Regions from separate parts of the Homo sapiens genome. Here region 2 is linked to region 1. The links come from fine-mapping of genetic effects on gene expression. A gene starts in region 1. The other region holds a variant in brackets. All regions are shown on one strand. Distances are from middle to middle.

Region 1 (5,390 bases):
AATACTTATATCAATTTCACTCAATTTAAAATGTTTATAAGCTCTCAGAATGCCTGGTCTGATGGCCAGGTTTGTTAGATTTAAGTACGTCCTGCAATGAATATTTTCTTTCAAAAGTCCTTAAATTGTGGCCGGGCGCGGTGGCTCACGCCTGTAATCCCAGCACTTTGGGAGGCTGAGGCAGGAGAATGGCATAAACTCAGGAGGCGGAGCTTGCAGTGAGCAGAGATCACGCCACTGCATTCCAGCCTGGGCGACAGAGAGAGACTCCGTCTCAAAGAAGTCCTTAAGTTGTATGTACTCAGGCTCTTTGATTTAGTCAGTGGGTATTTATTGAAGATCTTTTTTGTTCACAAAATGCTGTAACATTACTTGAATATTGTTTGTATTCAAAATCACCTATACTCACTCTGGGTGAAAAAAAAAGAACAACATTTTAATTAGTACAGATAACCAGATAGTCCATTCAGTGAACACCAACCCTAGACAATTAATACAATTAAGCCTGGCTAATCTTATGGAAAAAAATGTGAATGACTTTACAGGGCTCTCCACCACTGATGAGAACTGAATCTCATTATTCCAAGTGATGGCCAGGCTGCGGGGTGATAATGACTTTGACAACATTTTAGCGGAAGAAATTGAAGAATTAATTAAGGGTTGTAGAGAAGAACTGACCAAGGAGAACTCAGGGGACAAACTGAAAAAAAAAAAAAAAAACACAAAACCTTGCTCATAGAGTTGTATAAAGAAAATCATATATATATATATAATCTTTTGGGTGGCTTTTCCAGGGCATTTTTAACTTTTGTATACAGGTCAACTTGAGAATTTAATTCCTGTGAAGGATAAGAATGGTGGGAAGGTGCCAAGAATTATGAAAGACATAGGAAAATATATAACATAGTTTCTGCCTTCAAGAAACTTCAAGGAGCAATATATTTAACGGGGTCATATTAGATATGTAAACATAAAATAATACACTATATCATGAATGACAAAATGTGTGGTCAAATCATTATATGTAATTGTAGAAAGAACTGTTGAATGAATGAATGGACATAGACTATCCAAACATTAGAAATTTATACGCTCATTAAACCTGATTTTGTATCTAGAATGTATTCAATTTCTAGCAATCTTCCTTAAAGAACAAAATTGCAAAATTAAAAAAAAAGTTTATTATCTTAAAAATTCAACTGGTGATAAAGTGAAAGGTAAAAGTTCTCCATCTCTTCCTACTCTTATTTACCAGCCCGCTCCCAGAGATGTTTACAGCTTAGGTATCCATCCCAAAACTTTGTATACCATATACACACACATACTTTCAAACAAGGATACTACAGTCCTTCTTAAACTTTTTCAGTATTTCATTTCAGTACCCGCTGATCTACTTCATTACTTTTAGTGCCCGCAGCGTCAGTATATCAGATGCTAAAGTATCATAACTTACATGTATTTAACCCCTTCCTTATTTGTAGACACAGATTATTTTCTATCTTCCACTGTTAAAAACAGTACATCAGTTAATAGCTTTACACACCCCCTGTGTCAGATTACCTGTAGCATAGGTTCTCAGAAATCTAGTAAACCTTTCAAACTGTATTTTTTTTTTTTTTTTTTTTTTTTTTTTGAGACAGAGCCTCGCTCTGTCGCCCAGGCTGGAGTGCAGTGGCGCAATTTCTGCTCACTGCAAGCTCCGTCTCCCGGGTTCACACCATTCTCCTGCCTCAGCCTCCCGAGTAGCTGGGACTACAGGCGCCTGCCATCACGCCCAGCTAATTTTTTGTACATTTAGTAGAGACGGGGTTTCACCATGTTAGCCAGGATGGTCTCGATCTCCTGACCTCGTGATCCACCCGCCTCGGCCTACCAAAGTGCTGGGATTACAGGCGTGAGCCACCGCGCCCGGCCCTCAAACTGTATTTTTGACAAAGGCTAAAGGTATGCTGTCATGGTTTGGTTTGTACTGATCCGTTTAGGTAATTCAATGTTATTAGATGTGAGGATGATCTGGTGGCAACATCAATCACAGCCATAAAGGTCAGAGTTATTTAGCGCCCCTCACCCCCTAGCATTTCCAGTCCTTCCTTTAGTTTCTGGAAGCTCCCAGATGTCTCTTCAGAAGCTTAAGACGTTTTGGATCAAAGACATACTGTGGTCCTCGATAAAGGAAAAGATACTGTTGTTTCAATAATCTCACGGGACAATACTTAATAATCTCGTAAAGTGAGCCCTTATCTGAGGGGGGAAATAAAATTTATTGCCTTCTAACACCATCAAATAGTTTATTTGAGACCAGGAATTGGTCCGACCACTTATTTTCAACTTTTGGCTGAATACGGGTGAACTTGGCTTTTTGTTTTCCCTAAACCCAGGACAGAAATAAATTAAAAGCCCTGACTGTGCCGGGATAGGACTGAGAGGCCCAGGAAAGGCTGCACTAAGTACTTGGAGGGTTTGTTTTTTTCCTTCTTGCTGCTGCTGCTGTTTCCTCGAGGATGAAGGGAAAGATAAAACCCTCCTGCCTCCGTTCGTGCTTTCATTCGCCCCATTCCTCGAAGGTGACGAAACTTCAGCACATCTCTGTCCATTTTGGAAAAAAGAGGATCCCCTCAAGAGCAAATAGGCGGAAACAATGACCCCGCGCCCGGAGTTTTTCTGAGCTCCTAAATAGGGAGAGAGACCCGACAAAACAAACAAGCGAAGGCGACACAGCCAGGTTAGCACCGAGCAGCAGCGCAGGAGCGCCAGAAGGGCGGGAGCACACGGGCCCTTCCCCACAGCCAGCGCCTCCGCGGGTCCCACCCCTCGAGGGCGGGGCCGACCGCTCTTTCCGGGTTTGCGAGCGGAAGTGGACGAATTTGAATCCTGTGGGCCGTTGAATGTGGCTGCTCGCGGTCGGCGTGCCCCGACGTACAGCGGGCCGGGAAAAGTGGCACTGAGGCTCTGGAACTTCTGCCCAGCTCTCCTTGGTGAGTAAATGGGGAACGGGAAGACGCAGAACGTTCCAGAGAGAGAAGCAGGACCGTGGGGTGGGAGAGGGTGTCAGGAGGCCGGACGTCGCAGCCGGGGCCTCGCAGTGCTTTTGGGGACGTCTGGTGCTGGGGCCCGGCCTGGAGACTAAGGGAATTCGGGGCACTGGGGGCGTTTGCTGGACCAGCGCTCTCGACGGTTGCGCACGCCAGCCAGCTCTCAGTGTTGAGGATTCGGAGGCCCTGCCGGTCCCCCGCGAGTAAACCTTGTTTATACGCATCCTCCGTGGCTTTTTTTAAACCCGTAGTTTATTATTTCCACCAATTCGGCTCGAATGCTGAAATTTTAACAGTAGTTAAATCTCACTGTGAAGGCGTTGCCACGTTTAAACAAATCTCTTTTAATGAAAGATGGAAGGTTGGGGCGGGTTTAGAATGAAAAGATGCTCTACGTGGCTCCGCGTTCCTCCTGAGAGAGATACCCGGGCAACCTTGATTAACTCTGGACTGCAGGGAAGTGACAGTCTTTGAAATGCCTGAGTGGGATTTAAACTGAAATTCGAGTGTCCTTTGTATTTAAAACCCGGATATTTTTCTTTCACGGTTGACATTTTTCATGTACCGCAAAAATCCGAGACTCCTATTTAAACCGGCTGTGGTAACAGCGGTGGTGATTAACTAGGGTCTTAGTTTGCAAACAATAGGGATAAGGTTTAGTTCCACCGCCCTGCCTTTTCGCCTCCCTCATTCATTGGCCAACTGGGTTATTATGGAGTCTTTTTGGAAGTAATCCACTAATGCTTTGAGCATCTGTTTCTTTGGGTTTTATTGTTTTGGGCTTTTTTTTTTTTAATTTTTAATGATGAACTATCTGAAATATGGAACTCTGTCTAACCCAGTAGTAAAGTCATGCCTTCTGGAATGGTTTAAAAGTGTGCCATAAATGTAAACTATAAATGGGAACTTTAAATGTGTACAAGTTTTACATCTTTATTAAAAATCGTCAGTTTTGTGTAGCTTAATACGAAAAGATATTTTAAGTTCCTTTTAAGGTTTTAACACCAGGATATTGTACCATTTAAATGTATAAATATATTTTTAAAAGTAGGACTTCATAATAATCAGAATAAAAACATTCCTTCATCCAGTGCTGGCTATTCCAGCACCCCCATTCTTCCTGCTATTGAACTTTTAAGTGTTAGCCAGGAAGAATAGACTTAAATACTCGGTGTTTAGGATAGTTAAAATATGAGCATTTTTCATATAGTGTCTTTGTAACAGAGACATTGGCTATACTTCTCTAAGCCTTTCTGCTCATTTCATATGTGCTGTCAACAAATGGTAATTTTTAAAAATTGATCGCTATATCCTAATCTCTTTATTTTTTTCTACCTGAATTATTTTCATTGGATTTTTGCTCTTTCTTAAATCAGTGAGTTTCAGAATTTATTGTGTATACACTACCTTGAAGGATTTGTTCAACAATGCTGATTCCTGCACTTCAGATCTCAGATTCTGAATCAGTAGGTCTGGAGGATGGCATTGAACAGTCTGCATATTTAACTGAAAGGTTAGAAAATACTGTGAGTTTTCAAAACACTGATTTGATCTTTCCTAGAAAGGCATTATAATGTGTTGATTAAAGACATGGAACTGGGGCCAGATTGCCTTGGTTTGAAGCCCATCTCCACCACTTGATAGCTAGGTGACCCTGGGCAAGCTGTTTAACCTCTCTGCTTCATTTCCCTCTACCGTATGATGAGGTTACCTACTTTGTAGGATTATTGTGAGGATTGAATGAGTTAATATATACAAAGACCTTAAAATAGTGTGTGCCACATAGCAAATGATACATAAGTCTCCAATTACATTGAGTTACTAAACTGTAAAAACCGCATCACATACATTCTCTCATTAATCTTTACAATATCGCTGAGGTAGTTACTATCTTCAAATAAGAAAACAGGCTAAGAGGGGCTCGGTAATTTGTTCTCACACAACTAGTAACACGTTGGAACTGAAGTCGGAAATTAGATTTAACTCAAAAGTTTATGCTTTTTTAAAAAAGTAATATTTCTTGCCTCTCTTCAGTCTCCCTCCAGATGTTGCTCCATAAGTATCTCTGATGGCTTCTCATTGTCTACCATATATAATTCAAATTTCTTAGCTTTGCTTTTTATTTACAGAGCCCTTCAGAGTCTGGTACCAACTTCTCTTCCCAAGGACCATCTTCATAATATTACACCAGTCTCTTCCAACCTGCTGATGTTCTATCAATACTACTAGAATTCTCCAAATCTATCTCTTATTACATTTTATGCATATTTAGCCATTGGCCTTTTTATTTCCCCTTAAGATTTTACTCAAATGGGTTTAAAGACTTCTCCAGGCTGTGCTTTTTGCTTATAAATATAT
Region 2 (5,390 bases), 150 kb after region 1:
CAAGTCTAAACAAAAAATCAATTATTGTCTCATATGCATAGCCTAAAGGTAATTTTATCAATATTCTTAAGTTGTGCATTTGGACTGCAACCTGACAAGAGGTCAGTGTGGAATTTTCTCATTGTGGCATCATGTCTGCACTACAAGTAAACATTAGTGTATATTCTTTCATTGTTTATACATATGACAGATTTTTTTTCTAGAGACAAGGTCTTGCTCTGCCACTCAGGCTGGAGTGCAGTGATACAATCATAGCTCACTGTAACCTCACAGTCCTGGGCTCATGATCCTTCCATTTCAGCCTCCTTAGTAGCTAGGACTACAGGTGTGCACCACTGCACCCAGCCAGATATTTTTTAAAACTGGGAAATCATTTTTAGAGATACAGTTTTGTATTCTAGTTCTTAATAACTTTCATCATGCCAGTTCATGGAAGTATTTACTGTTTGCCTAATATTAAATCATATAAATATACTGTTATTTATTTAACCCTTCTTTGTTGTTTAGATATTGTTTCTAGTGAAAAACTATTTTTTGTTGTTGTTGTTAATGCAGAAATTCTAATCCACTGCTGATTCACATCATCCTTTCTGAACAAGACTGAAATTTTTGTTTGGGATTTCTCTAAGGGTATTGTTGGCACATTTTGTCAAGATTGAAATTGAATATTTTTAGCATTTCTACTACCACATCTTAGTGATTTACATTTTTTTCCCTTATAAAATTTTCTTTAGGTACTCTTTTTTTCCCAGTTACAAAGCATTTAAAATAAGAATCATTATGAAAGAATACTGACTGGCATAAAATGTCTATGGTGTGCCACTAAAATGTGTTATAAAACAGTGTATACAATATGATGCTAATTTTGGTTTTTAAATCATATATGTTAAATAGGCATATGTCCTAAGATTAGAAGACTATACACCAACATCTTAACAGGGGTTACCTCAAAGTGGTAGGATTCTTCTGGGAGCATTTTATATTTTCTGGATTCTCTACAGTGAAAATACTCTCAGAATAAAAATATTTTTTAAGGCACATCTAAATGCCATCTTTCTGCCCATCCTTCATCAATCGTATTGTTTAGTTACAGAGATTCTGGACATTTAGAAAGAGTTGAAAATAAACAACTGTATGCAATTAAGTGTAAAATCTGTGGTATATAATATAACTAAAGGGAAAAATCATTGAGTGGTAGAGTTAGAAGTGTTAACAAAGAAAGTGGTTTTGAACTTAGTCTTAAAAGGAAATGTACAGTTTCTATTGAAGAAGGTAGTGAATTTATACTCCCTAAAGGACAGCATGAGCAAAGGCATGTACCTGGAAACAAGGGAGCATAGAATGTAGGAAACAATAAAAAGACTAAATTATTACATGGTTGTTCTTTTAAGCCATCAAGTCTCTACATCAGTTCTTTTTATTTAAATGATCAGATAGAAATGAAGAAAAATAGGAAGTTTGGAAAACTAATGCATTTGTGCTTCTTTAAGAATTTCAGGCTGGGCGCAGTGGCTCACACCTGTAATCCCAGCACTTTGGGAGGCCAAGTTGGGAGGATCACTTGAGCCTGGGAGGTCAAGGCTGCAGTGAGCCATGATGGCACCACTGCATTCCAGCCTGGGTGACAGAGTGAGATCTTGTCTCAAAAAATAATAATAATAATTCAGTGTTTTAGTACTAATTGTAGTGTACTTGTATTCGTTGAAAAATTCTCTTTTCAGAAAATGTCTGCATCATAGAAGTTAGAGTTAGTCAGTAGATATTTTAATACCGTGACACCCAGAGTTAGTTCTAATAATTAGCTTTTAAGTACAACTTCCTTCTTTCATAGGGCTTTTACCAAGATGGCCTCAGCTCCGGCCAGCTATGGCAGCACTACCACTAAACCAATGGGGTAAGTATTTTTAATAATTCTTTTGCATCTTTGTACTCAAAACCTTACTTAGACTTTCATGCCTTAAAAACACAATGTCTGATACTTTGAATGCGGAAAATGTCACCATGCCTTTGGTGACATTTAGATGGCTGAAGTTCTCCTGGTTTTTTTTTTCTATTTTTTAACTTATTTTTCATTGACATTTAATAATTGTACATATTTATGGGGTACAGTGTGCTAATACATACCATGTGTAATTATCCAATCAGAGTAATTAGCATATCACCTCAAACATTTATCATTTTTTAGTGTTGGGCACATTCAGATTCTCACTTTAAAATGTAAGTTAATGTCTTTTACATGGTATGAGCTGAAACTTAGATAACATTTTTTATAGTATCATCCCTATTTATCCATTTATCCATCTGTGTGTATCTGTGTGGATGAGTAAACACATACATACATTTAATTGCATAGCTGAAATGATATACACCTAAATGTTAATAGTGGGTAATTCCAAGGGGTATAGTTTTTTTCTTTGGGGTACTTTTCTTTATTTTCCAAATTTTCTACAACAAATATTGTCTTCTCGATGGTTTTTATTCATATGCTTGTTTGTTATTATAACATAGTTTTCATTTTCAGAAAACATTTGAAGGTTAAAACTGTTTTA[G/A]TACCAATGTTGATAACTAATATAGACTTGAAGCTAGGCCTGGCTTCAGGATAGATTCAAGCAGTGCTAAATGATAGGAAGTCCTCAGGGCTAGGTATGACATCTTACTCCAGAGACCCCAGTGGAGTATGTGTGATTTTCAGAGAAACTGAACAAGGTAATTCTGACTACTCTTTTTGGTACCATACAGTTTCCAATTCCTAGCTTACTTTTTAGAGCTAAAACAAAAGCAGGAAGCCAGAGGAGAACAGGTTTATCCTAGCCCCACACTGAGTAACTGGTTTTAATGAAATAATTTCCAAAAACAAAAGCACTCAGCCTTATAAGTACTTGGCAAAAGGAATCCAGCTGGCCTCACCTTCAGACAGTGCTGCGCAGGTTAGCACACCCCCACAGAGTTGCCTGGTGACAGGAATCGCTCCAGGGCCATTCATTCCAACAAGGATTACTTTCTCTTGCTTCTGTTAATGAAAAGATTTCCATCCTGTCCATCTCTTCATTTCAGAGGGGAGTAAGGCAAGATGAGGAAAAGGAAAATATTTTTGGAAAATTACTTCCATGTGTTTAATAAAATAGACTTTTCAGTTTCATCCCTTAAAAATCTTATTGAACATTAGCCTATTAGAGTTCTTATGATTTTACAATTGGGATTTTGATAAATATGTTATAAGAAGCTCTTGGGTGATCTGAAAGCTGTCCCTAGCCTTCTGAGATTTTAATGCAGGATTACTAATCTGTCCCACAAAACATCTTTTAATTCCATGTGAGAGACTGTTTGAACCACAGATATAAACCCAGTATGGCAAGTCACTTATTGGTGTTTTGTTGTTGTTGTTTAAAATGTAGACAACATTCTCAGAGTTGAGGCAAAATTCGCTAAGTCTGTTCTGTTTCACATTTTTTTATGATAGATTTTATGTATAGAGAGGAGAGAAAATATACAATGTAGAATTGGATCCAGCTGCTGATAAAAGAGAACACAGTAATGTTTGACTTACTCGTAATACTTGCATATATATTTTCAATATGTTCATATGGTTTGAACTCCTAAAGCAAATTGTCCAAGTTACTAGCTTTAAATTGGTTTTTTTTAGCATTAGACAATCAGGAAGGCAAGGAATTCTCTTCAAATTATAACTCGCAAAAAAAAAATATAGCTAAGACTAGGAAATTAAGATGTTTATTTTGAGGGCAGCTCTTTATTTTTGTATTTTTTAATAATTATTGACTAATCAGAGTATTTTAATTACTATTTTATTGTTAAATAAAATTGCAGCTGTGATACCCATGGCAGCAGAAATTCTCAAGACCCTTCTGTTTAGTGAAAACAAAGGTGGTAGGTACAGCGAGCATCAGCATGTGGTGTGTAATCAGGTAAATATTTTATCGATAACAGATTGGAGAGGCACTTTGTACTTAGAATGGTCCTTCTCTTTTGCCCCTACCTAGTCTTTTATCACGAGTCATGAATACAGGATCACAGTTTGTGATGGAAGGAGTGAAGAACCTGGTTTTGAAACAGCAAGTAAGTACACTTGTTAGAAAACATACTGGTAACTTTTAAACATAAATGTTGACAGGCTAACTGCTCAGGTAAAGCAACTCCTGGATTTATTCAAGTAATAAATAGGAATCATAAAATCAAGGAGTTCCTTTTTTTTTAAGTTCTGGGGTACATGTGCAGGGTGTGCTGGTTTGTTACATAGGTAAATGTGTGCCTTGGTGGTTTGCTGCACAGATCAGCCCATCACCTAGGTATTAAGCCCAGCATCCATTAGCTCACTTCCCTATTGCTCTCCCGGCCTCCTACAGGCCCCGATGTGTGTTGTTCCTCTCCCTGTGTCCATGTGTTCTCATTGTTGAGCTCCCATGTGGTATTTGGTTTTCTGTTCCTGAGTTAGAAATCAAGGAGTTCTTTATTAGTGTATTTAAGACTCTGAGGGTATTTTTTACATGTGTAGCTCAGAGCTCTGTAATTTTATACTTTTTTAAAAAAAAATTGTTCATTTGGATTTGGACTTTACTTACATTTTGATTTGTATTTACCATCAGGTTGTTGAAAGTACGTTAATTGAAAGAATGAACCTAACCTATTTAGAATAGTGAACTGTTACATAATGAATATCATTTCTTTTAACATATAATCAGAGAATATTAATAAGCTAATGAACTTCATATCTAAAGTCCTATGTAAATTGGACTAAACAAAATATTTTAAATAGAATTTATATTTGGGGATAATAAAATTGTACCTCGATTTCGCATTTTCTTTCTTTTAGTCCTTCATTTTGTATATAGGACACTTTTAAATGACTTTTTTGTTTCTGTGATTTTTCTATTCTAATATATAGATATTCTGCTTCAGTCATTATTAATTTGGTATCTTTTCAAAAGATTTGTTTTTTACTTTTAATTTTGGAAATTTTCAAATATGCATTATCAAACTCTCCTGAATCCTTCAATTAAGTCAGTATCCATTCTTGTTTCATCTATCCCATTTGTGTTTTTTATTTACTTTTACTGGAATATTTTAAGGCAAAACTGAGATAATATTTTACACAGAAACTCAGTTTGCAGTGAGAAGGGTTTTAAAGGCCAAATCAAAAGAATCAGTTATTCAGACCTGAATATTGTTTATTTACCTGTATTCAGAAAAAAACAAGATCTTTTCTTTCCTCCACACTTTTCTTTCTTATAATGTTTGCTTGTGGTATTTTATATACTTAATCTTTATTTGTGGTTTAATAAGTTATTTTTTTCTTTTTCTTTTTTTCTGAGACAAGGTCAGGCTCTCTTGCCCAGGCTGGAGTGCAGTGATGCTAGCTGGGACTACAGGCACGC

Which allele goes with the higher level. Alleles are on the strand shown, and positions count from the first base shown. SD is a standard deviation of normalised expression in the study named.
For the expression in CD4 T cells of the gene that starts at base 2,861 in region 1, G is the high allele of the variant in region 2 and A is the other (large effect, 1.5 SD a copy in CEDAR).

What was found. PIP is the estimated chance that this variant, and not a neighbour inherited with it, causes the effect.
Region 2: its variant is the best candidate, but not a certain one, in a credible set for the expression of G2E3 in CD4 T cells (CEDAR, PIP 0.75).

The regions. Positions count from the first base shown.
Region 1 is chr14:30,556,298-30,561,687 of GRCh38, forward strand. It overlaps G2E3 (G2/M-phase specific E3 ubiquitin protein ligase), which reads left to right and starts at 2,861. Exons shown (of 15, transcript NM_017769.5): 1 at 2,861-2,975. It overlaps G2E3-AS1 (G2E3 antisense RNA 1), which reads right to left. Exons shown (of 4, transcript NR_151720.1): 3 at 4,440-4,538. RefSeq lists an enhancer at 2,527-2,716.
Region 2 is chr14:30,703,992-30,709,381 of GRCh38, forward strand. SCFD1 (sec1 family domain containing 1) reads left to right here. Exons shown (of 25, transcript NM_016106.4): 18 at 1,832-1,894; 19 at 3,999-4,074. Among named protein-coding and RNA genes, the nearest start is that of SCFD1, 84 kb to the left of the region's middle. The variant G/A (reference allele first, on the strand shown) is at 2,550.